4 separate regions of the Homo sapiens genome follow, and all the other regions are linked to region 3. Evidence: fine-mapped expression QTL. A gene starts in region 3. Each other region holds a variant in brackets. All regions are shown on one strand. Distances are from middle to middle. Region 1 overlaps CARD14 (caspase recruitment domain family member 14). Region 2 overlaps CCDC40 (coiled-coil domain 40 molecular ruler complex subunit). Region 3 holds the start of EIF4A3 (eukaryotic translation initiation factor 4A3). Region 4 overlaps RBFOX3 (RNA binding fox-1 homolog 3).

Region 1 (7,823 bases), 28 kb before region 3:
GTCCTTTAAACTGTGCACTGGATTCAATGATATGAATAACCACAGTGGACTTACGCTCCTGTGGGAGGATATCAGGTTGTGCCTAATTTTTCTCCACTGCTCACAGAGCTGCAGCCACCGCCTTTGTTAATCTCCTGGGCACAGATGGGAGCGATTCCTTACAGACCCATGAATTCCTGTGACTTGATTCTTTTCATTTGGAAGGAGAGGCTGGACCACTGGAGACAGATGCCTCTTGCAGGGATCTGTATGCTAAAAATACTTGAAAATCAGAGCAAATCAACACCTGTCATCTGAAAAATGGAAAATGGGCCGGGGCCAGTGGCTCATGCCTGTAATCCCAGCACTTTGGGAGGCCAAGGCGGGCAGATCACCTGAGGTCAGGAGTTTGAGACTAGCCTGACCAACATGGTGGAAACCCGTCTCTATTGAAAATACAAAAATTAGCCAGTCATGGTGACGGGTGCCTGTAGTCCCAGCTACTTGAGAAGCTGAGGCAGGACAATCACTTGAACCTGGGAGGCAGAGGTTGCAGTAAGCTGAGATTGCATCATTGCACTCCAGCCTGGGTGACAGAGTGAGACTCCATCTCAAAAATTAAAAGATAAAAATAAAACATGGAAAATGATCGTTGGAGAGTCGTGTGTGCAGGAGCAGCGCCAGAAGCCGTCCCAGGAGCCGGGTCTCCGGAAGTACTCACCAAGGTTCTCAGGTTTGCTTTTGCAGGAGCTCCGTGCAGCAGGGTGGGGTCCACAGTCCCCGCAGTGTCTCCAAAGCCCAGTGTGGTGCCAGCTGCCTCCTTTCTCTGCGGGCTGCTGGGTGGGACGGAGCTGGGCAGAAGGAAGAGCCTGAAGTCAAAGCAGCACCAGGTGAATTGACCGTGATTTCAAAGCCATGTGACCTGTTCCAAAACTCAAGGTTCGGTCACAACCACCGCAAGCGGCGGGGAAAAGACGTCAGACTCGGATCCGGGAAATAACTCGACGGACCTTTGACCCCTGTGGTTTTCCCAGTAACTATTGAAGCTTCCTTAGCACTTGGAAGCAGACTTCTAGAATGGACCTGGGCTTTGAACCCTAGACTACCAAGGAGAGTTGACAGGCGCAGTAGTTATCCAAAGCACCCACAGGCCTGTCTGCGGCTCCCCACAGGGCCAGGCCACTCATACCCTTCTGCTGAGTCTCCTTGCCCGGAAGGAAGAACAGCTGGAGAGGACAGTGACGGGCGCAGAGGCCGGGGTGGGCAGGTGAGGAGGAGAGGAGAACCAATCGAGGGCAGCTCTGCCTCATTCCTTCTGATCTCAGTCCTGTTTCTCACTGGAACAGGTGATTGAGGCTTGCGAGTCAGGGTGTCACTGATTGTGGCCCCCCGCAAAAGAATGCTGAAGTCTTGACCCCCAGTACCTGTAAGTAGGACCTCATTTGGGAATAAGTCTCTGCCAACGTAATCAAGTTGAGGTCATTAGGGTGGGCCCTAGTCCAGGGATGGGTGCCCTTATAACAAGAGGAGAAGGGCTGGGTGTGGTGGCTCATGCCTGTAATCCCACACTTTGAAAGGCCAAGGCGGGCAGATTGCTTGAGCTCAGGAGTTTGAGACCAGCCTGGGCAACACAGTGAGACCTTGTCTCTGCTAAAATCTGCTAAAAAAAAATTTTTTTTTTTTGAGACAGAGTCTTGCTCGTCTCCCAGGCTGCAGTGCAATGGCACAATCTTGGCTCACTGCAACCTTTGTCTCCCGGGTTCAAGCAATTCTCCTGCCTCAGCCTTCTGAGTATCTGGGATCACAGGTGCATGCCACCATGCCCAGCTAATTCTTTATTTTTAGTAGAGACAAGGTTTCACCATGTTGGCCAGGCTGGTCTCGATCTCCTGACCTCAAGTGATCCGCCTGCCTCGGCCTCCCAAAGTGCTGGGATTACAGGCATGAACCACTGCACCTGGCCTAAAAAAATTTTTTTTTTAATTAGCCAGGTGTTGTGGTGCACACCTGTAGTCGCAGCTACTTAGGAGGCTGAGGTGGGAGGATCGCTTGAGCCTGGGAGGTGTAGGTTGCAGAGCTGAGGTAGTGCCACTCCACTCCAGCCTGGACGACAGAGCAAGACCCTGTCTTAAAAAAAAAAGAAAGAAGAAGAAGAAGAGGAGGAGAAGGGCCCTAGGCCTAGACACCCCATGATCACCCCATGTTGGCAGAGGCCGAGACTGGAGTGACACGCCAAGGGTCGGTGGCAACACTAGAAACTCAAGAGAAGGCATGAAGCAGACCCTCCCTGGAGCCTTCATGGGGGTGCGGCCCTGCTCACCCCTGGAGTGTGGACTTCTGGCCTCCAGAACCATGAGCAAATACATTTCTGTTGTTTTAAGCCACCCAGTTTGTGGTAATTTATGACGGCAGCCAGAGGGAGCGTGCACAGGGGCAAAGGCGATGTGGAAATTGTCCGTCCATCTCCAGGGATGCGCTGCCAATGGGCACACTCCCACAGAAGGCTCCTGAGCTCCTGGGCCTCCACCCAGTAGAAGCCTGCGTCGCTAGAGTCTGACTCCAAGTCAGAATGATCCTCTGCCCCACTTCAGGACCAGCTATATCGTCTGTGGAGCTCAGGGCAAAATGAAAGGATGGTGCGTTTGTTTTAAAAACGTATTCAGAATTTCAAGGCAGCAATAGCGAGCAATAAAGTCAGCCCAGGGCCCCCACTCCAGCCCTGCCCTGCATCACCGAGGGGTCTTCAGGCCCCCTGTCTATCAGGATGTCAGGATGGTAGCTAAAGGTAGGGGATGTTTCCTTTACAGATGATGGAATGTCCTAAAGTTAACTGTGGCGGCGATTGCACACATCTGTGAATACACTAGAAGCATCTTAAACGGGTGAATTGTGTGCCGTATGGGTTATAGCTCTTCCTTTTTTTTTTTTTTTTTTTTTGAGACAAGGTCTTGCTCTGTTGCTCAGGCTGGAGTGCAATGGTGCAATCTCAGCTCACGGCAACATCCGTCTTCTGGGCTTAAGTGATCCTCTACCTTAGCCTCCGGAGTATCTGGGAATACAGATATGTGCCCCCATGCCAGGCTCATTTTTTTTGTTGTTGTTGTTTTTTGTAAAGAAGGGGGTCTCACTATGTTGCCTGGGCTGGTCTCAAACTCCTAGGCTCAAGTGATCCTCCCCCCTCAGCCTCCGAAAGTGCTAGGATTATAGGTGTGAGCCACTGTGTTTGGCCGTGAGTTATATTTCAACAAAGTTGTTTAAAAAAAAAAAAAAAGATCCAGGCTTGGTGCAGTGGCTCATGCCTGTAATTTGGAAGGCAGAGGCAGGAGGATCGCTTGAGCCCAGGAGTTCAAGACTAGCCTAGCAACATAGCACGATCCCGTTTTTAAAAAAAAAAAAAAAAAAAAAAAAAAAAAAAAAAAAAAAACGATCCGAGAGCAGCTGGCAATCCCACCCTGCCTCCTGCTTCCCTCTCTCATCCCTGCCAGGAAGCAGGAGGAGGGTGGGCTGAGGAGGTCCCTGCAGTGCCCGGTTCTGCCCCTGCCACCCCAGGGCCAGGGCTGGGGG[T/A]CCACAGTGCGTGGGACACCGGCACCCACTTTCCTTTCTCTTCGTTTTCAGCCTAGGCTGGGCCCCCATCCCAGCCAGGCCCTGCCTGTTCAGCGTCCCCACCACAAGCGGGGTTCCTCTCTTGCCAGCTCCTGTTCTCTGCCTGGAGGTGTCGGGCAGGAGCACGTGCTCTGGGCGTTTCCCTGCCAGCCTCCTCCCTTCCATCCCCTTGGCTTCCTCATTCCAGAATCCCTGTTCACCTCAGCTGACCCTGTGACCCCCTAGGAATGTCTCTGGCTCCTGCAGAGGCGTCTGGGCTTCCCCTCACGCCTTCTTAGAGGACAACCAGTGGGCGCAGTCGCTCTGTCACGTCAAAGTCTCCAGATCAAACCCAACAAAGGATCAGGGCAGCCTCCTGTACCTCCCTCCCCAGCTCCTGGTGAAATGAACCAAATGTTGCGTTTTAAAAAGTTAAAAAAATAAATAAGTGAATAAAGCAGCAACCACAAAATGAGGAAAGGAAAACAACTTTTCTGCCACAAACTGAAAAATAGCAGGCCGGGCATGGTGGCTCACACCTGCAATCCCAGAACTTTGGGAGGCTGAGGCAGGCAGATCGCTTGAGCCCAGGAGTTCAAGACCAGCCTGGGTGACATGGCGAAACCCTGTCTCTACAAAAAATACAAAAATTAGCCGGGCATGGTAGCGTGAGCCTGTGGTCCCCAAGCTACTTGGGAGGCTGAGGTGGAAGGATCACTTGAGCCCGGGAGGCAGAGGTTGCAGTGAAATGAGATTGCATCACTGCACTCCAGCCTGGATGACAGACTGAGACCCTGTCTTAAAAAAAAAAAAGAAAGAAAGAAAAAAGAAAAATGGCAGACAAGCCCTGAAACCAAAGGAGTGCTGCCAAGGGGCACTGGGGGCACAGGTGCCAGCGCAACCCTTAGGGACAGACTGCGGGAAGAGAGGGCTTCAGCATCCCTCTACTGTTTGGGCAGCTGAAGAGAAGTCTAGGGAAGTCAGAGAAAACGCCCCAGAGCTGCCTCCAGCTTCCCTGGGAGTCCTCAGCAGGAGTGGGGAGGGGGCTGTACTGAGCCAGGAGAGAACCCAGGCCCGGCTGTCCTTCTCAGCGCAGGGCAACCACTGGATTTCTTTAATCACACATCCAGGACTAAACTACGGTGGGAATAGAGTCTTCCAGCCAAATAAGAAGATTCTTTACCCTAAGAAATAATGCAAGCAGTAGAAATCGGGGTAGGGGGTAGGGGAAGGAAGGCATCACTTTATCTTCCATGACCCTGTGCTATCTAAAATAAAGGAAGTCCAGGCGACGTGGCTCACGCCTGTAATCCCAGCACTTTGGGAGGCAGAGACGGGCAGGTCGCCTGAGGTCAGGAGTTCCAGACCAGTCTGGCCAACATGGCAAAACCCTGTCTCTACTAAAAATACAAATATTAGCTGGGTGTGGTGGTACATGCCTGTAATCCCAACTACTTGGGAGGCTGAGGCAGGAGAATCGCTTAAACCCGGGAGGCAGAGGCTGCAGTGAGCTGAGATTACGCCACTGCACTCCAGCCAGGGAGACAGACCGAGACTCCATCTCAAATAAATTAATAAAATAAAACAAAACGCTGATTTTATTTTATTGTATTTTCCGTTTTGTGGAGAATGGGGTCTTGCTATGTTGGCCAGGCTCTCAAACTCCTGGGCTCAAGCACTCCTCCCGCCTCTGCCTCCCTAAGTGCAATGATTACAGGTCTGAGCCACCAAACCCAGCACTGTTGATTTTACATAATGTCACTAATTTATCAAGGTTTTTGTAATCTCTTATCTGAATCTTGGGGATTTTTTAGGAACTAATAGTTCTTGTCATTGTGAAACTGTTCTACTACATTTGGCATTCCATTATTATTTTTAACAATTAAAAAATATTTTTTGGCTGGGCGCGATGGTTCACGCCTGTAATCCCAGCACTTTGGGAGGCCGAGGTGGGCAGATCATAAGGTCAGGAGTTCGAGACCAGTCTGGCCAACATAGTGAAACCCCATCTGTACTAAAATACAAAAAATTAGGCAGGTGTGGTGGTGTGTGCCTGTAATCCCAGCTACTTGGGAAGCTGAGGCAGGAGAATCACTTGAACCTGGGAGGCAGAGGTTGCAGTGAGCCGAGATTGTGCCATTGCACTCCAGCCAGGGTGACAGTGCGAGACTCCATCTAAAAAAAAAAAAATGCCGAATCTGGATGCACTGCCTATGAGTTAGCCCAGCTCCTCAAGGAGCAGTACATAAAAAATAAAAATAATAAAAAAAAACTTTTGCCAGCAACATCTGAGCTGAACTAAAATTTAAGTAAAATTAAAAGTTTACATTTCAATCATGTAGAATATGATACCATTTTTATAAAATGGTGTTAGTTTATCTCTGGGAGTCCCTCAATCTATGTGCCCATCCATCCATTCATCCAATCTGCCGATCAGTCTGTCCTGTCATTCCGCGCGCGCGCGCGCGCGTGTGTGTGTGTGTGTGTGTGTGTGTGCATGAGAGAGAAAGAGAGGGGGAGAGAAATGGAGAGGCAGAGAGCAGAGGGATTCTGGAACACTCCTCACCAATGCTAATGCTTGCTGTTCATGGTGGTAGATTGTAAAGAAATCTGTTTAGGCCTGGTGCGGTGGCTCACGCCTGCAATCCAGCACTTTCAGAGGCTGAGGCAGGCAGATCACTTGAGGTCAGAGTTCGAGACCAGCCTGCCAACATGGTGAAACCCCATTTCTACTAGAAATAGAAAAATTAGCCGGCTGTGGTGGTGCTCGCCTGTAGTCCCAGCTACTCAGGAGGGTGAGGCAGGAGAATCGCTTGAACCTGGGAAGTGGAGGTTGCAGAGAGCTGAGATGGTGCCACTGCATTCCAGCCTAGGAGCCAGAGTGAAACTCTACCTCAAAAAAAAAAAAAAAAAAAAAAAAAAGAATGTTTAGAATAAGCAAGTATGGGTTCAATAAAAACCATAGTCATTATTTTAGAAAACAATAAAATTAATCCAATTGATGAAACAGAGAAGGAGATGGGCCTCATCCTAGAAGTGTTCGCCACAGAACACTGGGGTCCTAGGTTGTCTGGGACAGTCCTTTTATGACTCTTGTCCTGGAGTAATGATCAACGGTGCCACCTTTCTCTCTCAATACAGACTCGGTTTAGGGGGCATCATGGCAAGGGGAGGCGAAGGCACGCCGACGCCGAGCTCCTCCAGCTACAGCGGGGACACCAGCAGAAACGTCTCCTCTCCTGCTCCCCTCAGCCCCGATGAAAGCGGCACATGGAGAGGGTGGGAGCCCAGGGGATGACAGATACTGGCTGAAGTGGGGAAAGTTCTAGAAGAAGGAAAGCGGGAGGAAGTCTTGGCTGGTCTAGGATGCATCAGTCAGGAAGACAACTGTTTCTTCCCCTCAGGGCAGGATTTCTCAGCTTTCTACTTAGTGAAGGAGAGTGCAGCATCTTTATAAAATCCCAGTATTTGCCCCCAAATCTCTTACGAAACATCTACTTCAATAGGCATTCGGCCTGAGCCTAGAGGTTCCAAGGCAGATGGAAAATACAGGTGTCCCTAAACAGTCGCCTACAAGGCCTTTCTTTGGGGCCAATGGCCTTGTGATTAAGTTGGTGCCAAAGAGCCAATGACTGAAAAACTAGGGCTTACCGCAGTATAATGTTTGTTTCTAGCAAATGACACTCTGGCACGCTCTCCAGTATCTTACTATATCGAGTTGCCAAGGGGCCACATCTCCAGCTTGCAGCTGAAACCCTGGGAGTTCTGGACAGCCAGGTCTCTGCGGATATCCTGAGGACCAGGACTGGTGGTCAGCCGAGGACTACAGGTTTCTCGGGTGCCTTCCTGGGGCTGGGTCCAGGTGGCAACGACCGGGTCTGGGAGGGTCCTCTAGTTGGATTGTCCCTCTGCCCCTGACTTGCCCGAGCCTCACAAGACTCCTGAGGAGGGTCTGAGGGTGCTGACTGTGCCCTCCCATCAGACTGAACTCAGAAAGCCAGGGCAGCTCAAGCCAAAGCTGCCTCACCAGCAGCTGAAGACAGGGGCTCTGCAGAACTCTCCAGACCCCAGCCAACTGCCCCAGCCAGCTGCCCCTCAGGCTTCTGGAGCCCCCAGAGCCACACTGAACTTCAAGCATCAGTGGGTGGAGCTAAATAGAAGTCACTAGTCCCTTCTGCAGTTGCCATGAAGCAACTTACAGTAGTCTCCAATGGCAGTTAACAATTGCAGGAGTTTCTTTGTAACTTGTCCCAGTGTAAATA
Region 2 (7,823 bases), 91 kb after region 3:
CACTCTGGAGGCTGAGGCAGGAGAATTGCTTGAATCTGGGAGGCGGAGGTTGCAGTGAGCTGAGATTGTGCCACTGCACTCCAGCCTGGGCGACAGAGCGAGACTCTGTCTCAAAAAAAAAAAAAGTTAATTGTTTCCTCCGTGTCATTCCCGCACCCGTGAATGAAGATGGTGACTCATAGTTTTTTTTTTTTTTTTTTTAAGTTGCAGTAACTTTGGTTTCTGGTGCTACCACTACAGACCTGAATCTGGGGCCAAGAGGGAGCAGCTTTCACCCCCTTCGTTCCCTCCACTCCCTACTCCACGAGGTGCAGAGATGTAGGAGCTACCCGGAAGGCCGGCTGCCCACGGGGGTGAGAATTGTTAGAAAGACTTCAGTCCTCCCCGGAAGAGGTCCCTGCAGGCTAAGGAACTTGCTGAGCATCCCCGCAGCAAGCTGGCCTTGGCGGTCATGAAGCGACTAGAGTACCTGAACCCTGCGAGGCCTTCTGTCACCCACTAGCCAGGGAAGGAATAGGAATCCGGGCTGTCCACCTGTCAGTATCTACTGTGGCCCCACCATGGGGAGGGCCCGATGTTTGCAGATGTAAGCTGGCTGCAGTCACTCATCCAGCAGACGGGCAGGTGCAGTCTAGTAGACCCACCAGCACCCTGTGCGTGGACACTCACTGGAGGGTCGAACACTGAGAGCTGCGGGGACTGCTTTTACCTCACTCACTGCTTTCCTTAAAATCCGGGTGTCCTCAGCTTGGGCCAAGTACTGAGCCTCAAACAGGGCAATGTCTTCTTCCAGTTGCTGGGCTCGAGTGGTGAGCTGGTCCACATACAGGTCCTGGGAAACAGGATGAGAAGCAGCCCCGTCAGGAGGTGCCCGTGGCTGAGGGCCTGTTCTCCACCAACCCTTGATACAAGTTGACGCCACCCAGGCCGGCCGCCACCCCTCCGGCCGGAAGCCTTCACGCAGGAGGCAAAGCTGAGCCCCTTTTTGAAGCTCCACGGTCTGGTGATCATTAAACATGTGTCGAGTTTGCAGAATACCTGCTTTTTCTTCTCGATTTCTGCCCGGATCCTCTCCGTCTCGGCCTTCTTTACCACTTGTGTCATCACGCGGATGTCGTCACGCATGTCCTGGTCGATGTTCTGCATGTAGAAGAGATGCAGGGCCAAGTTCTCCATCTCAGTCTGCAGAGCCGCCACTGCGGGGCGCGGCGGGGGAGAAAGAGAGAGAGAGTGAGTGGGGAGGCTGTCCCAGCGTCCCCCATGCAGAGACCCAGGAGGAAGCAGGGAACAGCCGTTCTGGGCACCCTTCCTGCCATTTTTGGGTAAGACTGGGAAACTGCTTTTAAACTATCAAGACACAGACTTTGTCAGCAAAGAGTTTACAGTCTCTTGGAAGAGACAAAAATATACGGAATCTACATCCACAAATTGCAGCAAGCTGTTCCATTCCCCACCAAGTCTCAGAGATCCTCCTGGTAGTCTAAGGATACACTGAAGTAGTGCCAGGTGGTAAGGCTTCGGGTTGATTGCATAGATGTCTTACCACTGAAAGGCTGGCAACCTTAGGTGGAGTCTTAAGTCCCCTGGGAGGAGACGAGAACATCCAGGGCAGGCTGAGCTCCACAGATGCCCCTGCACTGACACCGCTGCACAGCAGTGCAGGCCAGAGAGGACGAGGCTAGAAGAGGCAGCAGCTTCCATCCTGTCCCAAGTTAAGTGACAGATTTATGTCAGTGCTCTCAGAGGAGGCCAAGGCCCGAGGAACTGATTCCTTTAACAAAACTTGCATGAGATGGATTTCTTTTTTTTTTTTTGAGACGAAATCTCGCTCTGTCGCCCAGGCTGGAGTGCAGTGGCGCGATCTCGACTCACTGCAAGCTCCGCCCCCAGGGTTCACGCCATTCTCCTGCCTCAGCCTCCCGAGTAGCTGGGACTACAGGCGCCCGCCACCACGCCCGGCTAATTTTTTGTATTTTTAGTAGAGACGGGGTTTCACCATGTTAGCCAGGATAATCTCCATCTCCTAACCTCCTGATCCACCCACCTTGGCCTCCCAAAGTGCTGGGATTACAGGCATGAGCCACCGCGCCCGGCCATGAGATGGATTTCTAAAGCTGGAGTGCAAATTTATTGAGGGAGCTACACGTGGGTCAGTACTTGCTTGCTCACTGCACAGAGCACTCCCTTTCAGTGGCTGGATCCAAACAGAAAACTGAATTACAGGCCAAAAGGCTGCTGGACGCATATCATCCTGGAGCCAGGTGTGCTCGAAGGATACAGCTTAAACTTGCAAAGCCATTTTGGCTGGGTGTGGTGGCTCACGCCTGTAACCCCAGCACTTTGAGAGGCCGAGGTGGGCGGATCACTTGAGGCCAGGAGTTCAAGACCAGTCTAGCCAACATGGTGAAACCCTGTCTCTACTCAAAATACAAAAATTAACAGGATGTGTTGGTGCACGTCCGTAATCCCAACTACTCAGGAGGCTGAGGTGGGAGGATCATGCCACTGCACTACAGCCTGGGTGACAAAGTGAGACTCTGTCTCAAAAAAAAAGCAACCTGTGCATTAATATAGCTTGCAGTAGCTAAATTCCAAAGTAATTTCCTCTAAGTTCTCTTTGAGGACTTGCTATTCTTCTTTTTTTTTTTTTTGAGACAGAGTCTCACTCTGTCGCCCAGGCTGGAGTGCAGTGGTGATCTCGGCTCACTGCAAGCTCTGCGTCCCGGGTTCACGCCATTCTTCTGCCTCAGTCTCCTGAGTAGCTGGGACCACAGGTGCCCGCCACCACGCCCGAGTAATTGTATTTTTTTTTTTAGTAGAGATGGGGTTTCACCATGTTAGCCAGGATGGTCTCGATCTCCTGACCTTGTGATCCGCTTGCCTCGGCCTCCCAAAGTGCTGGGATTACAGGCGTGAGCCACCAGGCCTGGCTAAGGACTTGTTATTATTCTTAAATATTTCTTTCATTATCCTTCCTTTTCAAAATTGTCTTGGATATTTTTGTGCATTTAGTCTTCTAAATGAACTTTAAAATCAATTTGTTGAGAATAAAGTGTTGTTGTTCTTGTTGTTTTCTGAGACAGGGTGTCACTTTGTCACCCAGGCTGGAGTGCAGTCGCACAATCATAGCTCACCGCAGCTTCAACCTCCTGGGTTCACCTCAGCCCCCCAAGTAGCTGGGACTCCAGGCACATGCCACCATGCCCGGCCAATTTCTCATTTTTGTATTTTTTGTAGAGATGGGGTTTTGCCGCATTGCCCAGGCTGGTCTTGAACTCCTGAGCTCAAACGATCTGCCAGCCTCAGCCTCCCAAAGTGTCAACACTACAGGCGTGAGCCTCCGCACCTGGCCCGAGGTGCTTTTTGTTTTGAGGTGGAATATCCGCAGCACGTGTTGCTAAGGGACAGCAAGCGAGGAACCGAGCAGTGGGTATAATATGCAGCCATTTAAGTTAAAGAGAGAGAGAGAGATACACATACACACACACCCTTGTGACTTTGCTTAGATATGCAAAAAATCTCCAAAAGACTCCACAAGGGCTGAACACAGTGGCTTATGCCTGTAATCCCAGGACTTTGGGAGGCCGAAGCAAGAGGATCACTTGAGCCCAGGAATTGGAGACCAGCCTGGGCAACACAGTAAGACCCTGTTTCTACCAAAAAAAAAAAAAAATATATATATATATATATATATATATATATATATATGAAAATTAGCCAGGCCTGGTGGTGTGTGTGTAGTCCCAGCTACTTGGGAAGCTGAGGTGTGAGGATCACTTAAGGCTGGGAGTTCGAGGCTACTCTGCCATTGCATTCCAGCCTGGGAAACAGAGCAAGATGCGTCTCGCTGTCTCGAAGAAAACAAAAACAAAAAGAATCCACAAGAATCTACGTTGCCTCTGCGGAGGGCCCTGGTGGCTGGGTGGGGGAAGGGGAAAAGAGACGAAAACTTCCTCTTAGTTGTAGAGCTCTTGCATTTTGAATCATTACTTTTCCAAAATAAGTAAATAATTATGTTGAATAAATTTAAGTTCACCCAAAACATCTCACCACGGAGGGTAACGGGAATTGCAATGGTTTTATTGCTAATTTGGAGGGAAATGGCATTTTTATATCATGCGTCTTCCCAGCTGGTAACGTGGGCACTCCATTTATTTAAATCTGTTTTATGACCTTTCATAACATTTATTGTTTTTTTTCAGACAGGCTCATCATTCCTTGTTGGATTTCTTCCTGGACTTATTTAAAAGTTGTTATAGCTATTATGAATGAGCTTTTTTAAAAATTGTAATTCCTAACTATATTACTGGTGTAGAAGAAAACTACAGAGCTGGTATCCAGCTACTTTATTGATTTCTTACTGTTTCTATTGGCTTTTATTTTTCATTAGTAGAGGTTGAGAATTTCAGTATTTCATTCCCAGATCCATATCTCATTTCTTTCTCTTGTTTTCTTTGCGTTGCTGGAGCCTCCAAAACAGTCTGGGGTAA[C/A]TGCTATGCTAGCAGGCCTCCTCATCTCATTCCTGATTTTAAGTCTAGTCTTTCCACTGGGTAACATTTTCTTGTTAGTTTCTGATAAATACTTAGAACTCTCCTTCTATCCTACTTTGGGATGGATGATGAGTTTTATTAAATACCCATTTGGCACCCACCCAGGAAGCCTTTTTTTTTTATCCTTGTATTTTGTTTTATTTGATTTATTTATTTTTTTTTTTTGAGACAGTGTCTCACTCTGTTGGCCAGGATGGAGTGCAGTGGCACAGTCTCGGCTCACTGCAACCTCTGTCTCCTGGGCTCAAGCAATTCTCCTGTCTCAACCTCCTGAGTAGCTGGGATTACAGGTGCCTGCCACCACACCTGGCTAATTTTTTGTACTTTTAGTAGAAACAGGGTTTCACCACGTTGGCCAGGCTGGTCTCGAACTCCTGACCTCAGGTAATCTGCCCGCCTCGGCCTCCCAAAGTGCTGGGATTACAGGCGTGAGCCACCACATCCGGCCTCCATTCTTTAATTTATAAATATAATGCACAAAATTAGTAGATTTCCTAATTGTGAATTATTCCTGTGTGAATTCTGGAAGTAAATCCTACTTATTTTTGCTAACATTTTGTTCAGGATTTTCACTCCTCACATGTGGGGCCGCTTTACAGTTTCCTGCTTGTATGCTGTCAGCGTTTGCAGCCAGCCTTTCACTAAGCATTGCAGGACCAGCCTGTGGGGAGTTTCCGGAATCTTCCATGCCCTGGAGCTTTGATAACACAGGAAGTGTTTGTTCCTTGAAAGGTTACTAGAAGCCTTCCATAACATCTTCCAATACTGGTGCATTTAGGGAAAACAGATTTTTGACATTTTCAATTTCTTGCATGATGAAACCAGTACAATGCATAGCTTTCTTGCAATTAAAAACAAAAAACAAAACAAAAAAAACCCTCCCCCAAGTTGTCCTCATTCCCAACACTGTTACTTGCATGATCTCCTTTTTATTGCCAGATAAGCCAGCAGTGTGTAAGGTTTATTGGTCATTTAAAAAAAAAGCAGTTTATTTATCAAGTCAATTCATTTTTTATTTATTTCATCAGCTTCTGCTTTTGATCTTTATTGGTTTATTTTTCTGCTTCTTTCAGTTTATTTCCCTCTTTTTAGCTTCTCGAATAGAATGTCTGTTTTCAGGCTTGTTTGTGGAAATGTAAATAAACTCTGTCATGGGTTTTGTCTGAGCAGATTTGGCTGCAGCCAGAAGTCTTCATGCGTGGACTTCCCGTTGTTGTTAATTTCCAGAGTCTAACTGACATGTAGGTCAAATGCTAACCATCCTTCTCCCTTAGAATTCTGTATGCATTGGGAGGCCAAGGTGGGCGGATCACGAGGTCAGGGGTTCAAGACCAGCCTGACCAACATGGTGAAACCCCGTTATCTACAAAAATACAAAAATTAGCCAGGCATGGTGGCGGGCCCCTGTAGTCCCAGCTACTTGGGAGGCTGAAGCAGGAGAATCGCTTGAACCCGGGAGGTGGAGGTTGCAGTGAGCTGAGATCACGCCACTGCACTCCAGCCTGGGCGACAGAGAGAGACTCCATCTCAACAAACAAACAAACAAACAAAAAACACAAAAAAGAGAATTCTGAATTCTGTATGCATTGACATCCTGCTATTTAAATTTAAGATCTGTGATTCTCAGCCCTGGCTGCAAGTTAGCATCATCTGGAAGCTTAAGGGTCAAAAAGAAAGCCAGAAACAAACAATGCCTGGTCCTTCCCAGAACAAACCAATCTGAAATCTGGGCTGGGATAGGTCCTGGTGGTTTTGAGCTCTCCCTGGTTCCTCCAAGGCGCAGCTGATGGAGGCCTTGATGAAAGCGTAGCCCAGGCCCGGCCTCAAGAGGCCATCTGGGTTTTCCCGCCTGGAAGCCTGCAGCATTTTTTCTTTTGCCGTGGTATTTGGAAATCCCACCAGCTATGTCTGCGGAGGTTTATTTTCTCTTTCAGCTGCATGGCCCGTCACGAGTCTTTCTATCTGCAGATTCGTCTTTCCTGAACTCACGCATCTGTTCTCCTGGACATTGGCTATTGCCTCTCATCTCCTGAAATCTCCCTTTCGGACACTGATTCGATTTCCCTAATCTGTCGTCCATGTCTTTTACCTCCTCCTCAAGATATCAATCATTTGGGGTTTTGCTCTATTTCCAGGGAAGGTTCCTCGAACTGGCTTTTTAGTTAAGAAATTCAGTTTTCAACTGCATTCATTTGTCTAGTTAGTGCCTTTTGGGGGGATGATGATTATATTTTTAAATTTCACGTACCCCTTTTCCTAACACTTTGTTCTCTTTATGGATGCAATGTCCTCTAAAATCTCATGAGACTACCAGTTGGCGCCTCTGCACACTCTGGGATGATGATTATATTTTTAAATTTCACGTACCCCTCTTCCTAACACTTTGTTCTCTTTACGGATACAACGTCCTCTAAAATCTCATGAGACTACCAGTTGGTGCCTCCGCATGCTCTGTTTTTAGAATCAGGGCTGGGTTTGCCTGTCTGTCCGGCTCAGTCTCCTCTCAGGTCTGGGGATCTCGGGTTGGTAACTCATTTTGGTGTGAAGGTTTAGTGTCGGTGATGGTTAATACTGAGTGTCAACTTGATTGGATTGAAGGATACAAAGTATTGATCCTGGGTGTGTCTGTGAGGGTGTTGCCAAAGGAGATTAACATTTGAGTCAGTGGCCTGGGAAAAGGCAGACCCACCCCCAATCTGGGTGGGCACCATCTCATCAGCTGACAGTGCGGCTAGAGTGTAAGCAGGCAGAAAAATGTGAAAAGAGAGACTGGTGTAGCCTCCCAGCCTACATCTTTCTCCTGTGCTGGATGCTTCCTGCCCTTGAACACTGGACTCCAGGTTCTTCATTTTTGGAACTCAGACCGGCTCTCCTTGCTCCTCAGCCTGCAGACGGCCTATTGTGGGACCTTGTGATCCTGTGTCAATACTGAATAAACTCTCCTTTCTCTATATATCTATCCTGTTAGTTCTGTCCCTCTAGACAACCCTAATACAGTCTCCCTCCCAGATGAGGCAGGTGACCGTGGGCTTTCTCCAGGGGCCAGGACCCACGTCTCACCTAAGGGACTGTGCAGTGGTGGCTGCCCCCCGGTCAGGGCCGGGACCGTTGCCCAAATTCTTCAGTTCTGAGAAGGCAGAGACGGTGCTGTTTGACGCAGGCCTTGCTGGGTTGAAGAGCCTCGGCTCTGGCCCTCTCCTAATCTCCAGGAAGCAGAGTCCACCAGAGTGTTTGGATCTTTTTGGAATCCCACCCACTCTTTAAGCCCTAGCA
Region 3 (7,823 bases):
TATGGGATTACAATTCAAGATGAGATGTGGGTGAAGACACAAAGTCTAGCCACGTCAACAACTTTTCCACAGGTGGTGGAAAAAAATTCTTCCAGAGATGGATGGGGTAGTGGTTTCGGGATGAAACTATTCCACCTCCCATCATCAGGCATTAGATTCTCATGAGGAGTGCACAACCTAGATCCCTCGCATGTGCAGTTCACAACAGGGTTCACACTCCTCTGAGTCCAGTGCTGCTGCTGACAGCAGGCAGAGCTCAGTTTAGCTCCCTTGCTTGCCTCCTGCTGCACCGCCTGGTTCCTAACAGGCCACAGACAGGTGCTGATACTGGTCCGTGGCCTGGGGTTTGGAGATTCCTGCTCTAAAAAGTGGATTTACCCTCATCATCCCAGGGCCCCTCAGCCTCTAAGAAAAGAGGCCTCTTGGTCACAAAGGTGGACAGACCCATTAAGCTCTGGGTGAGCAACCCCGTCTCCAGCACCTCATGTCCCACAATGTTTGTGTGTTGGGGAGGGGTCCATCTCACGCGATTAATCTCAAGGCAGGAGAGCCCATGTCTGTTTTATGCCCCATTGTTTCCCTAGAAAGCATCGTTCACCCAGAGACTGCAGCAAACCTCAGCAGCTCTCATCATTGTCACATTGTCATAGACTCTGGGCTAAAAAGCTACTGCTCCCCAGAAAAGTTAGAGCCCTTTAAGATGTGTGTTCAGACACCTGGCATAAACAACATTTCCAGAAAAATGGTGTAAAATGTTAGATCATCTAGTCATAAAAATATGAAGGAAAACAAATCTAAGCAGTTTGTGGATTAGATTTTAACTTTGAACAAGGTGAGAGGCCTGGTAGCTCACACCTGTGATTCCAGCACTTTGAGAGGCTGAGGTAGGAGGATCGCTTGAGCTCCTGGGCTGGGGCCAGGATGTACGGTCCTCAGTAAGGCTTCTGAATAAAACTAACTTTAATTCTTTAAAAGCTTAACTGTTTTTCTTTAGTCAACAAGGTATTTTACATTCTTCTCCTACGTTAAGTCATTGAAATCTGTGTGTATTTTACGACAAAGCGCTACAGCACGGCCTGGCAAACAGTGTGAGGCACGAAATGATCCTTTGTAGAGTGAGGAAGGTATCAGAACTTACATTTTATTCAGCTTTATAAATATTTAATATTTTGGGTAACACCAGCATCCTTACAAGGAATGTTTATCAGAAGGTCAATTATCTGTCATGGATAAATTCTGGTGCCAGAATGAGATTCACTCTTGGAGAAGGCTGCATTTACTTGTTCACCCTTGAAATACTGCAATCCACCGACTTCTTGATAAAAGGATGCTCTGGTTTTCTGTTTATTTTTGAGATGGAGTCTCTGTCGCCCAGGCTGGAGTGCAGTGGCGCAATCTCGGTTCACTGCAACCTCCACCTCCGGGGTTCAGGAGATTCTCCTGCCTCAGCCTCCAGAGTAGCTGGGACTACAGACACCCGTCACCACGGCCAGCTAATTTTTGTATTTTTTTTTTAGTAGAGATGGGGTTTCACCATTTTGGCCAGGCTGTTCTCGAACTCCTACACTCATGATCCGTCTGCCTCGGCCTCCCAAAGTGCTGGGATTACAGGCGTGAGCCACCAGGCCTGGCCAGGATGCTCTGGTTTTAACTAAAATTAACCTTCATAAAAGGAGAGCTTTTCAAGCACTCCTAGAAAGAAGCTGTGGATTAAAGATGTGCCCAGCGATGCAAGCCAGATTTGTGACCATAAGAAAGGACAGGACCGGGCTCATGCCTGTAATCCCAGCATTTTAGGAGGCTGAAGCGGGCAGATCATGAGGTCAGGAGTTCAAGACCAGCCTGACCAACACGGGGAAACCCCATCTCTACTAAAAATACAAAAATTAGCCGGGCGTGGTGGTGCATGCCTGTAATCCTAGCTACTCAGGAGGGTGAGGAAGGGGAGTCGCTTGAACCGGGAGGCAGAGGTTGCAGTGAGCCAAGATTGCGCCACTGCACTCCAGCCTGGGGAACAGAGCGAGACTCTGTCACACACACACACACACACACACACACACACACACAAAATAGCGGGGCGCGGTGGCTCACGCCTGTAATCCTAGCACTTTGGGAAGCCGAGGTGGGCGGATCATGAGGTCAAGAGATCAAGACCATCCTGGCCAACATGGTGAAACCCGGTCTATACTAAAAATACAGAAAATTAGCTGGGCGTGGTGGCGCGTGTCTGTAGTCCCAGCTATTTGGGAGGCTGAGGCAGGAGAATGGCGTGAACCTGGGCGACAGAACTTGCAGTGAGCTGAGATCGCGACACTGCACTCCAGCCTGGGCGAACCGAGCAAGACTCCGTCAAAAAAAAAAAAAAAAAAAAAAAAAAAAAAGGACAGAGCTGGCGCTCGTGGAAATACAATTTTCCCAAAGTTAAAAACATGATTCTCAACAGCATGAACTGCCCTTCAAAGATGATGGAGCTGCTTCAAAAGGCGTTAGAGGAGCTGGGTACGAAGAAGCACTTAAAGTGTCAGATAAGAAAGCGGTTAGTGGCTGCGCGTGGACACCTGTGGTCCCAGGTGCTCTGGAGGCTGAGGCGGGAGGATCGCCTGTGCTCGGGAGGTGGAGGCTGCAGTGAACCGAGATCGCGCCATGGCACTCCAGCCTGGGCGACAGGGCCAGACTGTCTCAAAACAAACAAACGAACAAACAAAAAGCAGGTTAAGATGCACAACTGGTTAAAGTTCTGCTGGGCAATTAAAAAATGATCCCGTCTGGGTTATCTTTGCTGCAGGACACGCATTAGCAGCACCGTCTACTGACAAGTGGCCTTCATTAAGAGCAAATTGCAGGCTCAGCATGTATTTTATTTATAACAGCTGCTTGCCGGGCACAGTGGCTCATGCCTGTAATCCCAGCACTTTGGGAGGCCAAGGCAGGCGGATCACCTGAGGCCCCGCAGTTCAAGACCAGCCAGGACAACCCTAACCCCCGCCTCCCCCAACCCCGTCTCTACAAAAAAATTTAAAAAATTAGCCGGGCGTGGTGGCGCGCGCCTGAGGTCCCAGCTACTCCAGAGGCTGAGGCGGAGGCTACAATGAACCCTGATCCTACCACTGCACTCCAGCCTGGGCGACGGAGCGAGACCCTGTCTCCAACTCACCAGGCAAACGGTGAAGACACACCCAGGCGCGTCCCCTAAGAGGGACGCCGGCTTCAGGGGCCCTGGCCCTCCCCAGCGCAGACCCGCCGGAGCCCAGCGCCGCGCCGGGGCCCACCACCGGCGGCCGTGAGGGTTTCCACTCGAATCTCCCCGGCGAGCTGGGCGCCTCCACTACGGGTCTGCGACGCAGTCCACCCACTGCGGGCCCGAGAGAGGACCCGTGCTCGTCATTTTTATTCGAGGCGGGGCTATCTGGGGACCCCGCCCGGAGCGGAGGCCCCTCGCGGCCCCAGCCTGTTTCCAGGGAATTCAGGTCCACACGCCGCTCAAAGAACCTCAGCGCCCCAGTCCGCGAAATCCCGCGGCCGGTACGAAACACCGCCAACTTTAGAAGTACCACCCCCTCCATCCCTTTCGTAAGGAACTGGGTGCCCCGCCCTCAACGAGATCCCGCGGGAACTGCATATGGCGCGAGAGCAGAAACACCTTACTTTTCCCTGCGGCAAACGCCCAGTTCCCTTTCACGTGACGAAGAGTGCCCCGTCCCCCAGAGGCGTGGCCGCGTCGCGCGTACGCACGTACGCACGTACGCACGCACGTCTCTCGCTTTCGCATACTTAAGGCGTCTGTTCTCGGCAGCGGCACAGCGAGGTCGGCAGCGGCACAGCGAGGTCGGCAGCGGCACAGCGAGGTCGGCAGCGGCACAGCGAGGTCGGCAGCGGCAGCGAGGTCGGCAGCGGCACAGCGAGGTCGGCAGCGGCAGCGAGGTCGGCAGCGGCGCGCGCTGTGCTCTTCCGCGGACTCTGAATCATGGCGACCACGGCCACGATGGCGACCTCGGGCTCGGCGCGAAAGCGGCTGCTCAAAGAGGAAGACATGACTAAAGTGGAATTCGAGACCAGCGAGGAGGTGGATGTGACCCCCACGTTCGACACCATGGGCCTGCGGGAGGACCTGCTGCGGGGCATCTACGCTTACGGTGAGCGGGCGCGGGCCGCGGGGGCCAGCCGGGGGCGAGTCGGGGGCGAGCCGGGGGCTGAGGGCCAGACTGGTGACTCCCGGGCCGGCCCTGCGCTCCGGAGGTCGTGGTCAGGGTCGAGGCTCGGGGGCCAGTGACGTCCGACCCCCACCCCCACCCCCGTCCTCGCCCTCACGCCTGGCTGTGTCGGCGCTTTCGGTGTGTGTCCCCCGTGCAGAGCTCGGCGCTGGGTCTGTCGGGGGCTGCAGCCGCTTCGAGGCACCTCAGCGTCCTTCATTCAGCAGATAACTGATTTCTACCTATTAGCTTTTCTAGGTACTGGGGTTTTGGCGGTAAACCGGAAGGGTTTGCGCCTTTACGGGTTTTGAATTTCGTTTGGGGGGAAAGCATACTGTCAGGTTGCCCAGGCAACCTGAAGAACCTGAAGCGGGGTAATTGAATAGAGTGGGACTGGGAAGGAGGAGAGAATTAGTAAAGCAGAGAGGTAAGGGGGTTCGCAGGAGGGGGTGCCATTTGAGCAGAGTTCTGGATGAAGGAGACTGTTATGAGAAGAGGGAAGAGCAGTTGGGGCAGAAGGAACAGCTGGTGCCAGGGCCTTGCAGCCCTTAGCCAGCTGCATTCCAGGAACTGAAAGAAGTCCCCTGTGGTGGGATTTTGGAGAGCTAGTCGGGGCAGATCTAGCAAAGACGTGTAGGGTGACGAATAATTTGAATTTCATTTAGAAATCTAGTGGGAAGCCAGTGGAAGGTTTTAAGTAGCTATGTGACACGATCACATTTACAGTTTTAAAGATTCTTCTGGGTGTCTGTAGATTTGAGGTGAGGCGAGGCAAGGCAGGAGAGGAAACAAGAGAGTTGGGAGCTTTTGCTGCAGTTCAGGGAAGAGAGGATTGTGCTGCCTTGGAGATGGAGTACCAGGGAGCTGACAGCATTGGCTGATGGATTGAACGTGAGTGACAGAAGGAGGAGAGTTGGAGTGTTTTGAGTAACCGGTGGTTGATGCTGCAAACATTTGGCTAGGTAGGCAGCACTCCAGAGAGTCAGAATCAGGAGCTGTCTCTTGGTATGTTTGAAAGATGTGAGGAAGTTGAGGGAGAGCCTGGAGAAGAGGTTGGGTTGGGCACATAGATGGGAATGACCAGCATCTGGGATAAATGGCCTGTGTTTAATGCTTGGGACAGGGACATTTTTTATCCTGTAGTTCTCTTCCTTTTCTTTCTTCCTTTTCCTTCTGACAGTCCTGCTCTTGTCACCAAGGCTGGAGTGTAGTGGCATGATCTCAGCTTATTGCAACTTCCACTTCTGGGGCTCAAGCGATTCCTTTGCCTCAGCCTCCCGAGTAGCTGGGATTATAGGTGTGGGCCACCACGTCCTACTAATTTTTGTATTTTTAGTAGGGAGGGGATTTTGCCATGTTGCCCAGGCTGGTCTTGAACTCCTGACCTCAGTGATCCACCAGCCTCAGCCTCCCAAAGTGATGGCATTACAGGTGTGAGCCACCCCACCTGGCCGTATCCTGTAGTTCTTGATGCCACAACAGTTTGGACAAAGTGAAGCGAAGTTGCTGAGGATGCGTGGTGAAAAAGCATCTCAGGCAGCCTCACAGTGAGGCTGACAGCCCCACCTGGTTTCCTGGCACTCAGGCAGTCCCTGCCCTAAGACACTGTTGTTAGTTTCCCATCTATGTGCTTGCTCTTCATGAAGAGTTTAAATCATCTGCTATATTTGCATTTGTGTTAAGATGGGAAATTGTGCTACATTTTCTTTTGTTTCTTATTTTTCGCTATGCCCCAGAACTGAGCAGAGCTACATTTAAGAGACTACCAAAAAATAATTGAAATAGAGTTTTTGTACATAAAATTTTATTTACTTGAAAAACACGTGGTTCTTCTTCAAAATAGCCTCACCCTTTGGTGTAGTAGTTGCTTTGCAAGAGAGATGGTGTGATGGTGTTGTAGTTAGTGAGCTGCATCCAGACAGAACAACATAGGACACCCTGCAGCGTGACCCACGCAGGTTAAACAGAGTTGTAGACCTGTCAGCAACACACAGACTTAATGCTAGCTAGTAGGAGAGAACAATGGCTAGAGTGACTTTCCTGTTTTTTTGTTGTTTTTTTTTTTAATTTAAAAAGTAGTATAGGTTGTTTGTAATCCAGTCAAACCTAAGGGAGTAATTAGAGTAAAAAGTAAGTTTCTTTCCACCCCTCTACTGCAGTAACTGCCAGGAACATTTTGGCACTTACACTTCCAGATGCTGCACACCCAGATTTTTTTTTTTTTTTAAACAAAACTGTTGTCTATATTCTACAATTTGGTGGTTTTTTAAAAATAGAGATTGGTCTTTACAAATAATATCCCACGTTAGTGTAGAAATCACTCAGCCCAATTCATTGAGCCCCTGGGTTTTGAGAGCTTGCTATGTTGAACACTGGGTTAGGCTGGAGGACAGGTTCAAAAAACAAACCATGTCTGCCCCTGAGGAGCTCACAGTACAGGGTTTCTATGCTGTCATTGTGGTGAGGGCTAATTTTTTGTTTTTATTTGCAGGTTTTGAAAAACCATCAGCAATCCAGCAACGAGCAATCAAGCAGATCATCAAAGGGAGAGATGTCATCGCACAGTAAGTTGTCCTGGGGTGCGGCGCAGGGCTGGATGTAAATTTGGGCAGCGCAGTGCAGTTAGATGCTCTGGGATGACTGTTTCCCTCAGCTTGTACACGCTCAGTTCCAACACTTTCCCTGACTTTAGCCACAGGGTTTAATACTTTTTTAAATTTGTGTTCTCTACTGTGGAAAGCTTTCATTTTCTTTTTGAGATGGAGTCTCGCTCTGTTGCCCAGGCTGGAGTGCAGTGGTGCCATCTCGGCTCACTGCAACCTTTGCCTCTCAGTTTCAAGCTATTCTCCTGCCTCACCCTCCCAAGTAGCTGGGATTACAGGCATGCACCACCATGCCCGACTAATTTTCATATTTTTAGTAGAGACGGGGGTTTCACCATGTTGGTCAGGCTGGTCTCAAACTCCTGACCTCAGGTGATCCACCCTCCTTGGCCTCCTAAAGTGCTGGGATTTCAGGCATGAGTTACTGCGCCCGGCCAAGGCTTTCATTTTCTTAGCCAGCTTTGCTTAGTGGTTTGCTGGCATGTGGAATTGTATATAACACAATTTCGGAAAAACAGACTGTGCTTTTCCTCTGCTCTCACACCACCACAACAGTCATCAGCACAGAAGAAGACTTCTGTGAGCAGAGGTGTGGGGCTTTTCCAGCTGGGTGTCCTCCAGTTCAACTCACACCACCTGCCTGGAGATAGGCCATATCCTGCAGGTTGACGGCTCAGTCCCCATGACTACCCTCTTTTCAGACACCAGTTATAAGTTCGGATCTCTAGAACTTCTGACCAAGCAGCTTCAAGTTGGGTTCCCAGGATCCCCTCTTTAGGTTGGATTAATTTGCTGGAACAGCAGCTCAAAGAACTCAGGGAAACACATTTAGTGGTTTATTATAAAGGGTACTGCAGAGGATACAGATATGGGGGGAGGGGTGCAGCCTCCAAGGGGCGGGTGGTCACCTCCCGGAACCTCCTTGTGTTCCACTGTCTGTGTTCAGCCATCTAGAAGCTCTTCGAACCCAGTCCTCTTGGGTTTTTATGGAAAATTCCATGAGGTCAGCATTCTTTCCCCCATAAGGGAA
Region 4 (7,823 bases), 940 kb after region 3:
CATGGTCGAAGATGCCCAGGTGGGCCCGTCTTTGGGCGCTGGTCAATTTCCCCAATGCAGCGGGACTCCAGGAGGGAGGGTGCTGGCTGGTTGTCTTCCAAGACCCCAGGAGACCAGAGCTTTCGGGAGCTTGGCCTGGCCACAACCTCCTGGGCCCGCTGGGGGAGTTCCTTGTGGGCAGGGGTCTCATCTGTCTTGTTCCCCCCCACGTATCCCCGTGCCCAGCAGTCAGCCTGGCACAACCCAGGTGACCAGGAGAGGTGCTAAGAGAGGGCCTAACCGAAAGTCCAGGGCTTAAGGGAGGACCAGGGCAAAGCGTTGTGGTTGCTTTGAGGAGAGTTACCAGTGGTTCTGGTAAAGGGATCTAGAAATGCCCCAACCAGCAGTGAGAAGTCATATTAGGATTGGAGGAGTCAGGGCTGGAGATGGACCGGGGTACAGCCCTGCCGGAGCCTGGGACTCTGACCTTGGGGTATCTGCAGCTGCCTCCCTGTCTGTCCAGCCCCCCGGAGTCTGAGCGTGGGAAGGAGGCATCCGCAGGGGATGAGTAGCAGGGCTCTCCCAGGCTGCTGGCAGCAGCGACACGGCCCCTATCCCTGTTAACTGCACGCCAGCGTCCACCTGGAGCCAGTCCCAGCAGCTCTGCTGAAACCTGGGTTCAGCATACGATGATCTCAAAACTTAATTATGGAAAGAAGTTGGGATTAAGGACCCTTCCATTTATCTTCCTGCCTGCTGTGGCTTGTCAGCAGCTCGGATCTGGAACGTCCTGCTCATGGTTCCGGAGGCTGAGCGGGCAGGAGGTGGCGGAGGCTGGCGTTGGCAGGGTCAGAGGCACAGGCTGCCGTGTGCCAAAATGAGCATCCTGATTCAGGGCTTGTGCCTCCCCACGACGGAAGCCACAGCCACCCACCAGACCAGCCCGCATCGGGCCGTGCTGCCTGCCAGGAAGCCTGTGTTCCCACCGTCTGCTCCGTGGCCCAGGACTGAGACCGCCGGACGCTGGAGAAGGTGTTGGAACCTCCAAAACTCGGCACCCTCATGGTGTTTTGGAGCTCCTGCTGTGGGTTGCACCCTCTGCCCAAGCCGCACACCATAGCACATGTGAGTCACGCACCCCACCTCTTGCTGTGTCTCTGCAGGCAACCTCCTCCTGTTTATTTGTATGGGACAAGAACTATATGCGGACACCTGTGCAGGACACTGGGGATACCGAGGTGGCCCATCCCTCTGCAGAGGTGCTCACTGCTCGCTGCCTAGAGGAGACCAGGACTGAGATCACCGGACGCTGGAGAAGGTGTTGGAAACTCCAAAACTCGGCACCCTCATTGTGTTTGGGAGCTCCTGCTGCGGGCTGCACCCTCTGCCCATGCTGCACATCCCCACCAGGCACCAGACGTGCAGATGGAGGGTGGTAGGGCACTCCTCCACATCACCTACCCCAGCCCCATCTCTTGAAGGGCAACTGGCAGAACAGGACAAGAGCCACCCGACCCTTCAATTCCATAATCCCGCCCCGGGACCATATCCCTGAGAAATAATTCAAAAGATGAAAAAAGCTGGACGTGCCAAGATATTTATAGCAGCAGAAGAAACCCCTCTGGCATCATCTTACCTGTCCGCCGTAAAGGGATAGTTACGTGAAGTATGCGGCGGGCACTCGATGGGATATTGTGCGGCCGTGAGACCTGATGGGTAGGAAGTCCCCGTACAAGGGAAGCCGTCTCTGTATATCATCAAGTGAAAAAGCAGGACCCCTGATTACAGCGAGGTGAAAACTATAACCGCATGGAGATGAAGAGCAGATGCAGCCAGAGAGAAATGAAGACGGTGGCATTAGCGTGAAGACGCCGGGGGTCCAACTCTGAAAAAACACTGAAGAAATAAAAAAAGTTCACAAAAGAATAGCCTCCCTCCTTGACCAGGCACCTGCCCATTGCCCTAACCGGGTGGCCCCCTGCACTCCCCACTCCATATCCCTCCCCCCAGGCAGGTACACTCTTCCCTCGGGCTCCAGAGGTTATCTAGCCAGGGCAGAAGCTGAGCCTGTGTGTCTGTTGTTTTTGCAGGATTTGCTAAGGCGCCTCTGTGCGCACACAGAAACGCTGTCCTTTCTTTTCTTTCTTTTTTTTTTTTTTTTGAGATGGAGTCTTGCTCTGTCGCCCAGGCTAGAGTGCAGTGGCGTGATCTCGGCTCACTGCAAGCTCCGCCTCCCAGGTTCACGCCATTCTCCTGCCTCAGCCTCCCAAGTAGCTGGGACTACAGGCGGCCACCACCACGCCCGGCTAATTTTTTGTGTTTTTGTTTAGTAGAGACGGGGTTTCACCATGTTAGCCAGGATGGTCTCGATCCCCTGACCTCGTGATCCACCCGCCTCCGCCTCCCAAAGTGCTGGGATTACAGACATGAGCCACCACGCCCGGCCAGCGCCGTCCTTTCATAGCACATGTGAGCCATGCACCCCACCTCTTGCTGTGTCTCTGCAGGCAACCTCGTCCTGCTTATTTTTATGGGACAGGTACTATGTGCAGACACCTATGCTGGACACTGGGGTACCGAGGTGGTTCATCTCTCTGCAGAGGTGCTCACTGCCTAGAGGAGGAGAAAGTCAAGTCCCCAGTATGGGGAATGAGAGGCCACACCTGCGGTGCCGGCCACATTTTGTTCCATGGTGCTTTGGAAGTGGGAGTTCCGTTTGGTTCAATGGGTGTGTCCCGAGTGCCTCTGTCCTGCCTGCCACACTCAGCCCTGGAGACACAACAGGGATGAAGCCTTGTCCCTGCCCCCTGGGAGGTCCCGGAGCTGTGCATTAATAGTTACAGAGCAGGTGCAAACATGGTGATGGGGTTCAAACAATGTGGGCACCCAGAAGGAGGCACTGGCCTGCTCCTGGGATGGGGGCACATCACAGAAGGCCTTGTGCAGGAGGGCTGGCCCAGCCACATCACCAACCACAACTCACATGGGTGGCCTGGTGGGAGAGGGGAGGAATGGGCACGTACAGAAAGAGCAGCCAGGGGCCGGGCGTGGTGGCTCACGCCTGTAATCCCAGCACTTTGGGAGGCCGAGGCAGGCGGATCACAAGGTCAGGAGATCGAGACCATCCTGGCTAACACGGTGAAACCCTGTCTCTACTAAAAAAAAGTACAAAAAATTAGCCGGGCGTGGTGGCGGGTGCCTGTAGTCCCAGCTACTTGGGAGGCTGAGGCAGGAGAACGGCGTGAACCCGGGAGGCAGAGCTTGCAGTGAGCCGAGATCACATCACTGCACTCCAGCCTGGGCGACGGAGCGAGACTCCGTCTCAAACAAAAAAAAAAAGAAAGAGAGAAAGAGCAGCCAGGGTGGAGATGGGAGTGAGGTCCTGTGGGGCCCCTTAAGGCAGGAGCAGGGCCCTAGGAGCAAGCGTGGGGACACGGTCAGAATAATTCTGGCTTCAGACAACATCTCTCCACCAAGAGCCTCCCCTCTGCCTCTGCCTCTGCCTCTGCCTCTGCCCGGGAAGGGCCTCCACCAGCCAGGTGGGCATCTTTCACTCAAGGTTGCTCAATGCCACTTGCCTGGCACCCACACTTCCATGAGAAGATGAACAGCTGACCGTGTTTTCAAAGATACCACCTGGGGAAACAGCCAGAAGCTGGAAGTCATCCCAAGAGAGAAGTCAGCCAGGGGTTGGAGACCCCAGCAGAAGGCAAGTGCCTCTTTTCTCTTCCTTGACCCAACCTTCCCGACTGACTCCCAGCCCCACCCCTTCCCCGGACTGCTTGGAGGGCCGAGGGGAGCCCCTTTGGTTTCCAGGCGGTCGAGGCCTTTGGCTATTGGCTGGGATGGCCTGGCCGGGTGTGTGTGTGACAGAGACAGCCTGGCTGGGCAGGAAGGACCAAGAGTCTTGGTTCTGTGCCTGAATCCTGTCTTGAGAGCCACAGCTCGGGGCTGACAGCTGGAGACCCGCACTGCCAGCAGCATCTCAGCTCTGCTGTATCCGCTTGGTTGTGGTTCTACCAACAGAGGGGAGAGGGAGTGTTTCTGCAGTGACTGTAAATAAGCCTTTCCCTCCAGACGCAGGAAGAAGGGCGTGAGGGGAGAACAAAGGGAGGGAGACACCAAGAGCTGGCCAGAGAAGGGCCACCTT[T/C]CACCCAGCCCAGCCGAGGCTTGCCGAGGCTCCCGCGGTCCCGGACTTGTGGCCCATACTGTTTTAAAAGAAAGGGCCAAAACATTGATTAATTGTATAGCTAAAGAAATAACCATTCCTCCTTTTGGGGGCAAGACTGGCTGGCCGCAAAAGAGCTGAGGATGAGCAAGAAGAGAGAAGGGGAGGGAAAGGAGGTGTGAGCGTGCAGGAGGCGCTGCCTGGAGGTGCCCTGGTGTGCACCCCAGTCTCCAAGTGGCCGACGGGAAAGTTCCTGAAGGCCAGTCCTCCCCAGAGGGCAGCACAGAGACTTGCAGACACCCCCCTAGAAAAGGGAAGGGAGCTTAGGCCCGCGAGAGGAGGGCGTGTTCCAAAGTTTCCTGTTCCTGGAGCTTGTCCCAAGAAATCCCAGATCCCTTTGCCCAGTGGGCTGACCCCACAGCCCATAGGCCCAGGGACCCAGCCCGAGCCTGGCCACAGGGAATAACCCGAGAGGCTTCTTGGTAAAGCTTGCAAGGGGCCCTGGTGCCACGCTGGGAACAGTGCAGGCCTCGCTAGGGGTGGAGCAGCATCCAGGCACCTCTGACCGTAGCTCCCTGACTCTGGCCTCAGGCCACTGAGCAGGTGGCTAATCGAGGGACACTGGGGGCCTCACTCAGGTCCAGCAGTGAGTTTGGGCACATGGAGAGGAAGTTTCAACTCTGTACCTGTCCTGGTGACATGGGAAAGGAGCGTTTCATTCCTGTTAAATATGAACCATTAAGCCCAATAAGCTCATTAGACCATGGGTGATAATCTTCTTCATACTTTCCTCTGTTTTCTGAATCGTAAAACAACCCTACTAATTATAATATTAGGCAGAGGCACTTTTAACCCAGTAAGCATTTGGAAACTCTTCTACTGGGGAGACAGGCAAACAGAGAAAACTTGCATGGCTTTTTTCTTTGCATGGGAAACTTCAGATTTCAAATCTTGTCTGTCTTAGTCTAGAGTTTTCTCCCCAAAGCAGAGTTTGAGACAAGGGCTTGCATGCAGGAGGTTTATTTTGGGAAATGAGCCAAAGGAAAGGGGGCTGGGAAAAGTGAAATGGGGAGGAAGAAAGCCATTCCAGGTGTACTATTGAGTCAATGAGATGGGGAGTGGTTCCAAGACTCAATCCAGTTAGGACTTCTCTGAGGAGTGGTGTAGAAGGCACTTTCTGAGCTGCCCACCTGAGGGATAGAAGAGGGAAGGTTGCATCCACCAGCTGCCATAGCCCACAGCGCAGGGTGCACCATGGGGTGTTAACTGGCCGGCACATTCAGGTTTGTTCCTGCCAGGGGACAGCTGAGCAGTGGTGGCCTGGAGAGACTCACTAAGTCAAGTTGTCTTCAGGCTACATCTGTGGACAGCTGATGGCTGCAGCAAAGTCTGGAGTGAAAAGCAGGGCTTAGAGGAGACAAGGTGGACACAGGAGGCATCCGCTCCCGCCCACTTCTTGCACCCCTGTACTATGTCCAGCTCATCACAGAGTCTTCAAGATGACGGCCAGCCTCAACCATCTTGAGGAGTCAGTGCTGTGTCTCTCAATGAGACTTGCCGGAGACTCCTCACACAGCCTTATCCGCCACAGTGTACGTCGGGCACCACTGGGATGATGTCACTGCATCTTGGACCTGCTATAGAGCCCTCGTTTGCTCTGGGACCTACTCAAAACGGATAGCCTTTGGAAGTGTTAGGCTAGAGCTGTATTCCCAAGGGGAATATTTGCTGCCTCCAGCATCCAAAGAGGCCACCAAGTTCTGTGCCCCTCTCTTGGTGGAAGGAGTGCAATGATTTGCTTTTACATGATCTTCAAGGGGATGTTCCAGAAAGCCCCAGACTCTAAATATTTCATTGACGTGGCAAGCTGTAGACCTTCTTGCTAGGCTTTACCTCGCACCCTCTGACACACAGGTCTTCCTCAGGCATTAGCTGGACTTGCTCCTTCCTGCCCGTCTAGCTCAATGAGCCTGATTTCCTCAGTGTATCGGATGAGCATATTCTCTGGAATGTCACAACGGCCAAGGTCCCTGCAGACTATATTGTGGAAAAGAGCAAGAGAATGATTGCAGCCTTGCAGCAAGATAGGAAATGTGTATTGCTGTCCTTCCTATGTAAAAGCAAACTACTTTAAGGAAAAAAAAAAAAAAAGCCAACTGCTTTTGACTCTTTATGGACATGGACTGGAAAATACATTTTCCATATCAATCACCATATACCAAGTAATAGAGGCTCTGTCGAGCTATTCCAGTAAATACAACACTGCTGTGAATAATTGGAGGCTGCTGCTTGGTGAAGTTTCCAGTAATCCACCATCACCCACTCTGATTCATCTGGTTTTTGTAGGGTTCTGTTTTGTAGGTGAATTGAACAAGGATAGGATGGGGACCTCATCCTTGCTTCCTTTAAGTATTTGATAGTGGATATAATTTTTGCAAGTTCCCTGGGGTGTACTGTTTTTTCTGATTTCCTGTCTTAGCTGGGGGTTAGGGAGGTTTTATAGGCTCCCATTTGGCACTCCTACGTCAGGGAACTCATATTCAGGTTATGCTAGATGCTAAGTGTAGCCATCCAAATGCAGACTCAGAGACCAGAGAACAAACCACAGGATGGGTCCATGAGCCTGACAGACCTGCTGTAAGATGGATGTGGTTCAGGATGTCATATATCCCTGGGTTTCTGTGGACCCCCACTCTAACTGGCAGAAATGATGGTGTTTTCATTTCACAGGTATCAGTGTCTGCTCTAACCATGTATCCTCCTGCCTGCAAAACTTCTGCTAGTCCCCTTCCCCAGGACACAGGTTCTCTGGCAAGTATCCACAGGTCCATCTGGGGAAGGATGGGGATGCTATCATTATAAATATTGCAGTGCATTCCTAAGCCCTACCTGGTCTTCCTTCCACCAGTGGGCTCTGACTGGAGAACTGCCTTAGACCTGGAACTGGATATGGTACTGCAGTTTCCCGTTGTGATGACTGAGGAGTTCTCTGCTCTCTAGCTCTTGATTTTTTCCTGGCTATATAAGCCAAGCAATACCCTACTTGGCCACCCATCCATTTCATCCCCAGGAACACCATGGCTTATTAGCTGCAGACTTCTGTAGTTCAAAGCACCCTGGTCATCTCCAAAGCCTGGCTGACCACGGTGGTATTTAATTCCAACTTGCCTCTGATGGTTAAATGCAACTATCTGGCCCCTGCTATTCTAGAATCTTCTCATCCTCACTGATACTAAGGAGCCCAGTTAGTGGCAGCATCTCCTAATGGCAACCCTAAGTGAAGGCACTCACCACGAAGCTTTCCAAATGCCTCAGCGGTCCCCCACCCCAGAATTGCATTTTTTATTGCCTTAGTGGAGGGAATGTCCCCCATACCCTTCTGGGACACAGAGTCATCTAGTGGGTTCTCTGTTCACAGCATCTGGGGCCTTCGGACCCCTTCTTTAATACTCCACCAAAGTAGTTCCAGCGCGTCGACCTCGTTGACTGAATGCTGTCGGTATGTGTGCGCTTCAAGGAGCTGTTCACTGGACTGGTACGCGTGTCCTTTCCAGGATATTAAGCCCTGAGTCATGAGAAGTTACTTTCACGTCAGTAATCTCTCCTCTGTTCAGACTTACATTCTGCCCCAACCCCACCTACGCCCCCTGCTCCCCGGCACCCGCTGGTGTGTACC

The links. PIP is the estimated chance that this variant, and not a neighbour inherited with it, causes the effect.
Region 1: its variant is the best candidate, but not a certain one, in a credible set for the expression of EIF4A3 in whole blood (INTERVAL, PIP 0.51).
Region 2: its variant is the best candidate, but not a certain one, in a credible set for the expression of EIF4A3 in whole blood (TOPMed, PIP 0.83).
Region 4: its variant is the best candidate, but not a certain one, in a credible set for the expression of EIF4A3 in fibroblasts (GTEx, PIP 0.85).

What each region holds. Positions count from the first base shown.
Region 1 is chr17:80,171,533-80,179,355 of GRCh38, reverse strand. CARD14 (caspase recruitment domain family member 14) reads right to left here. Exons shown (of 24, transcript NM_001366385.1): 2 at 6,128-6,450; 3 at 701-848; 4 at 55-252. Among named protein-coding and RNA genes, the nearest start is that of CARD14, 5.4 kb to the right of the region's middle. RefSeq lists enhancers at 52-1,251, 925-1,425. The variant T/A (reference allele first, on the strand shown) is at 3,544.
Region 2 is chr17:80,051,867-80,059,689 of GRCh38, reverse strand. CCDC40 (coiled-coil domain 40 molecular ruler complex subunit) reads right to left here. Exons shown (of 20, transcript NM_017950.4): 8 at 1,039-1,196; 9 at 710-832. LOC124904074 (a long non-coding RNA gene) reads left to right here. Exons shown (of 2, transcript XR_007065931.1): 2 at 205-1,424. Among named protein-coding and RNA genes, the nearest start is that of CCDC40, 19 kb to the right of the region's middle. The variant C/A (reference allele first, on the strand shown) is at 4,491.
Region 3 is chr17:80,143,103-80,150,925 of GRCh38, reverse strand. EIF4A3 (eukaryotic translation initiation factor 4A3) reads left to right here and starts at 3,798. Exons shown (of 12, transcript NM_014740.4): 1 at 3,798-4,133; 2 at 6,682-6,754. The coding sequence starts at 3,965. RefSeq lists enhancers at 1,717-2,429, 2,430-3,143, 3,144-3,856, 3,857-4,571 and silencers at 3,140-3,329, 4,170-4,219.
Region 4 is chr17:79,204,314-79,212,136 of GRCh38, reverse strand. All of the region lies in intron 4 of RBFOX3 (RNA binding fox-1 homolog 3), which reads left to right. Among named protein-coding and RNA genes, the nearest start is that of ENGASE, 130 kb to the right of the region's middle. RefSeq lists an enhancer at 480-990. The variant T/C (reference allele first, on the strand shown) is at 4,130.